Regions from separate parts of the Homo sapiens genome. Here region 1 is linked to region 2. Evidence: fine-mapped expression QTL. A gene starts in region 2. The other region holds a variant in brackets. All regions are shown on one strand. Distances are from middle to middle.

The links. PIP is the estimated chance that this variant, and not a neighbour inherited with it, causes the effect.
Region 1: its variant is fine-mapped to the expression of CHD7 in whole blood (INTERVAL, PIP above 0.99).

Annotation. Positions count from the first base shown.
Region 1 is chr8:60,737,540-60,740,452 of GRCh38, reverse strand. The region is part of intron 1 of CHD7 (chromodomain helicase DNA binding protein 7); the gene reads right to left. Among named protein-coding and RNA genes, the nearest start is that of CHD7, 60 kb to the right of the region's middle. The variant C/T (reference allele first, on the strand shown) is at 1,305.
Region 2 is chr8:60,677,113-60,680,025 of GRCh38, reverse strand. CHD7 (chromodomain helicase DNA binding protein 7) reads right to left here and starts at 1,286. Exons shown (of 38, transcript NM_017780.4): 1 at 944-1,286. RefSeq lists silencers at 1-178, 839-938, 1,299-1,738.

The DNA.
Region 1 (2,913 bases), 60 kb before region 2:
TCATTATTCACCCGCAGGCATGCTGGGCTCTGGTGGACCAGAATCCCACGTGACCACTCAGAGAAAACTAGTTGAGTGGATACTTTGTGGACACCAACTATTCTCATAACTAGAAATACAACTTTCTCCAAAACTGAAAATTATTTTTACAGAATAAAGTTCAAAATATGCTCTCCTCACCATTGCCTTAAGTCCTTTTGGGACAAGGCAGGACCTAAGCAGGAAGGGAGACAAGTTGGCAGGCACTTGTGTTCGCACCCTACGTGCTTCCAGCGCACTGTGTACACTATGTAACATGCTGCATCTTATTCAAACTCTTCCTAACAGATCCTGTGTCAGATTAAAATAACTAATTTAAAGAATGCGTTGACAATCTAAACAGGAAAGTGTTTTTGTTGAACACTAATTAAATCAACGGCCTAATAAAGACCTAATTCATATAGAGAAAATGACTGAAATCTTAAACATCTTTGGAATTTAACTCATTTTTTTCTCTTTTATAAGGACATTAAGCATTGTGTGATACTAGCTCACTTGAAAAAAACAATATCTTGTTGAAGAATTTCCAAAGTGATGATAAAAACAGGCTCAGTCATAAATTCTACTGACACCCTTCCATAAGAGCATGGGAATGAACAATGGGCTAACCAACACTCCTGAGAACTTACCAGTAAGACACATAAAAATTCTGTTTCTGCCTGCCGTATTCTAACACATTCCTAACAAGGGGAGAATTTTGCTTACAGAAAATGTAAACAACATTCCTGTTCACTGTCAGAACTACAGACATAACACCTGAGAGGGTCTCCAGGCCTGTAGTTTTCAGGTGACAGCTGTCAACTAAAGTCAAAGGTCTCTTCACTCTGCCGCTAACTGCCATGAATTTTCTGATCTACTTTCTCCAAATACAGAGGTCAGATGGGTGAAAATAAGGTGAGCATGAAAGCTATTTTACTGAAAACACGCTGCTTTACTATACAACTATTTTAAAATCCAAAATAAAGAGAAGTAGACATCTCCAGTGCCAGTTGCAACAAATATTCTTAAATACACTCCTAAGAAGGCTAAGCAGTCAGTCATCATTTATTCAAGGCTCATTCTAACTTTCAAAGAAATAAATACTGGAATGGACTTGATAATAGCTTAAACCAGCCATGCAGCCCAACCACTTACCAAAATAACCTTTCAAATTAGCTTAAGGAAAGTAACGTCTACATATGTGTCCTGGGGAGCAGCTTCATCCTCCAGGGTCCGCCAACTGTTATGGGAAGAAATGCTACTGACTCGATGGGGCTCCAGGCCAG[C/T]TCCAGGTAAAAGTGAGCCCAGAGGGAGTGGATGGCTTAGCCCACTGGTGACCTTCTCTTGCAAGCCCACTGAGCTCAGAGGCAGAGGCAGAGTCAGATCAAGCTTGGAGAAGTGGCGATGAAGTTGGTGCTAACTTTTTATCAGCTTAAGATTCAGAAGAGGGACAAGTTGCCTATGCGCATGAGTAGGGAAAAACAGCCCTGCCTGAGAGTACCCATACTGATCCTTGGCTGTGCTCCTCTTCCTGTTCCCTACGCCCTTCTACTAAGTGTCCATCTCCCAGACGCTTGAAAAACGCCAGCATTATATGGTATCAACTAAGCATGTCGCTCGGCACAACTACAACCATGCTCAGGTAAGGTCCAGGCAGAGAAGTTCAAAAACTGGCTTTGCAGTCTGCCATTAGTGACCGCTCACTGGGACAGCCACCAACGCCTTCCTGCCCCTTTTCTGACCTCAAGACCCAGCTGGCAACTATGCCAGGAATCCATCTGGTAGCTGCATTTCATATTTCTGATTTGAGATAATCTAATTAATTTGTTTTGGTCCTTTTTTTAAATTTGATCAAGACCATCTGAATGCCCACTTTCCCAAGTCGCAGCTGCATTGTATAATTTTGTGTTTCTATAAAAGATATTCATTCAAAGCCCTATTTTGAAAGCTTCCCTCTCGTCTACACTCAATATCTAGATTTTCTGTGTCTAGATGAACACTGTTCAATGGGCCACAAATGCGAGCTATTACATGTAATTTTTAGTTTTCTAGTAGCTACATTTTAATAGTAGACCAAAAGAGTGAAATCCATTTTACCAATTTCTATTTAAACCAATAAATGCATAATACTGTCATTTCAACAGGTAATCAATATAAAAAAATGAATAAGCTAGTTTACGTATTTTGGTATTGAGTCTTTGAAACCCAGTATGTAATTTACACTTACAGTACATCTCAATTCCTATTAGCTACATTTCAAGTGAAAAAATGGACATATGGGGCTGTGGCTTCCATACTGGACAGCATAAAGTATTTAAAAAGAAGAAACAGAAATAACAAATTAGCAATGAAATTTTTTAAAGTCTCATAATTATCACCTGGGTAATAAACATTCAAGTTGCATTTATGTTTTATTTGGTGTTACATAAAAATTAACTCTCAAATCACAATTATTTATTCAAAATGTATTTACTGAGCACCTACTATGATCCAGGCACTAGTCTAAGAGCTGGAGAGAGATCTGTGAATAAAACAAAATTCCCTCTTGTCCTCATGGAGCTTATATATCTGTAAATGATGCATCTCTTAAATAAGAACTAAGATTCAGGGCTTATGTTATTAAAAATATAGGTTGCCATTTTACAAAATACTCCTCGGTAACTTCTGATGAGGAATAGTCTAACTAAATGTGAGAATATGTAGCAAACGGTACCTATGCATATAATGGAGACATAGTAATTCAAGTTTCTACTCAGTGCCCTATTGGCCAGCATTTTCTGAGATGTGAACTAAAGGACAGTTCAGAAGATGCATGTGTTTGGGGGTGAGGAGGGGTCACAACGAGACCACTCAACTAACAGAATCATCAACATTAGAGGCACACTGTGAAACCAA
Region 2 (2,913 bases):
AGGTGGGGTCCCCTCCTCGCCGCGCCTCCCGGCGCTCGCCCCGGCCCCGCTCCCTTTCTTCTCCTCCTAGCGCACTTGGGAGCCGCCGGGGAGCCCCAGGAGCCCCCAACTCCGGGCTCGCAACTCCGCGCCCGCGACCGGCACTGGCTGAGCTCGGGACGCCTCCCGCGCCGCGTGTTCGCGCTGCCCCCGCCCCACGCGGCGCCCCGCGCACTTTCCCCGCCGCCGACCCACCTCGCTCGGTGGCGGTCCCCGCGCGGGCTGGCGCCGCCGCGCCGGGAGGAACGCACTTTGTTCGCGCCGGTGCGGCCGCAGCTCCCGGCGAGCGCGGCGTGGTCGGTCCGGAGCGGGGGGCGGGGGCGGGAGGCGGGGGTCGCCGCCGTCCCCGAGCCGCCGCCGCCGCTGCTCAGCCGCCCCGCGCCCGCGCGCCCATCGCCCGCTCGCACTTGAGTTGGAGCCCAACTTTTCCTCCTTCCTTTTTCTCTCGAATGGAGCCGGCAACTCGTGCTCGGCGCCGGCGGGAGGAAACGCGCTCGCGCTCCCCCGCGCGCAGACACGCTCCCTCCTGTCCCCCGTACCCCCCCCCCACGCCGGCAGCACAACAAAAAGCCATTTACATGCGAGGAAGTGACCCTCGGCCGCACCGCGCGCCCCCGCCGCCGCCGGCCCGGCGGACGCAGGCAAAAGTTGGGGCGCCGGGCGGCGCTCGGGGCGCGGGTTCGGGCCCCGCGGGCGGCGACGCCGGCGACACTACGCGGGCGGCGCTGCGCTCCTGCGCTGGCCCCGGCCCCCTCCCGCCCTCGCCCCTCGCCCCTCGCCCCGCACACGCCCAACTCCTCGCTCCCAACTCCTAGCGCGGCCCCGGCCCCGGCCCGGAGCGATTTCCTGCCGCCGCCGCCGCCGCCGCCCCTCCCGGGGGCGCCGGGCGAACTCTCGCGCTCACCGGGTCGGTCGGGCTCCTCCGCTGCCTAGTGCCGAGGGGAAAACAAAACGCAGAGCGGGCTCCGGAGTTGGCTCGGCAGCTGCGGCCAGGGGGCTGAATCCACGGGCACGGAGTTGGCCGGGGGCGAACGGGTCTCTGGTGAGTTTCAGGGTGTCCGGGTCCCCGGGCCGCCTCCTCCGCGGCGCTCCTTTGTGTAATTTCACTCGATTCAAGTTTAATCCGATAGTTCCCGAGCACGAGCGCGTCCGCACCACCACGACTCAACCCCCGCGCCGCCGCCGCCGCCGCCGCTGCCGCCGCCGCCGCCGCCGCCGCCGCGGCCCCAGCACGCCAGCGCCTGCGCGCGTCCGGCACGCCGCGCGCACCCGAAGCCGCGGGGCCGCGCGCGCCCGCCGCCAGCTCCCTCCGGGCCGCGCCGCGCCCGCGCCCGCGCCCGCGCGCCGCCACCTGACGTCAGGCGCGCCTGGCATAATTTATGCAAGAATTCGGCCGGGGTGGCGGAGGCCGAGGGAGAGGCCGAGAGAAAAGGGGCGGCGCGGAGCTGCTGGGCCGCGGGCCGCGGGCCGCAAGGGCGGGCCGGGCGCCACTTCCCGTCCCCTGGCGGGCGCCGGCGCTTCAGGCGGGTCTCCCCGCCGGCCGGTGCGCTGCTGCCGCGGAGTCTTCCTTGCCCGGCTGCACGGAGCGCTCGGCCGCTGCGCCCGGGCGCGGACTGGAGGGGCTGCTGCCACGTCTCCCGCGCGGCACCTTCCCGGAGCCGGGTGCGCCGCCCCGGGGCAGGAAGCGGGGCTCCGGGAGGGCTGCGACCCTCCTGGCTGCCGCGAAGGGTTTCCGACGCTGCGCGGCCGGCGGCGGCCGGGGGTGACTGGCAGTCTCTGCAGTAATTATCCTTCAACTTGAAATTATTTTCCCACATGAAATTATTCGGAAGGGACATGTTCCATTCCAGATGGGTTCGTGCCTGCTTCTCCACATCGCTTTTCCCACCTCTTCGTGGATAGGACACCGGATCCACTACTTAATCAAAAAGTTTAACTAGATGGCATTGATTTTGTCGAATTTGTTACCATACCAAAAAAGAGAGAGAAGGCAGAGAGCTCAATGATTATGAAACAAAGAAATAGGATGTATGCCCATTATTAAACGTGTCGGGACTAGAATGTTTTACTCATTCTTTGGCCAAAATGGCACTTGTATCTGATTGCATAGTCTTAAAAATCCGAGCCTCTTATTCCATTTCTCTTCCCGGTACAAAATGAATGTTAAACCTGAAGAAAAAAAACTTTTTTTTACTAATTTTTATTTTAGGAAATAGATCTACAAACATGGATTAAGCCTCTTCTATCTGCAAAATACGGAGCAATTATAATGTGTTTAAACCATCAATTGTAAACTTTAAGATAATTTTATTAGGTTAAAGATTGCACTTATTTTAAAATCAGGAAAGGAACTCATATCAACCAAAGATTGCCCTATGGCAGGTACAGACTGACTGGTTATTACTGGACTCCAAAATAAACTGAGAAAATAGCAAAACTATGTAAAATGTACTAATCTCACTCACTGATGGTTACACTACCTGTAGTGCTAAGCCTGTAATCACAATATTGTTATTTGGACAAAAGATTAATCAAAACTATCTCATTAAGTAACTACTGCAACTATTCAATAAGTTTGATTATCCTAGACTTAATCACTAAGACATTGATTTTCTGATTTTAGTAATAATTCTATAAATATATCACATTATATTGTGGTTTGTTAAATGCACTGCTTTTAGCTTGCTTTCATCATGTATTTGAGTTTTGTTCTAAAAGAAATAAATGTTTTAATGTTTAAGGAGCTTACAGATCATCAAAAAGAACATAGAAGACAGTACAGAAAGAATTCTGGCATTTAAAAAGTTGAAACCACTAAAATCAACTTCCATCTGTTTTAAACCCGGTATCACAAACCAAGAATCACAACTCTGA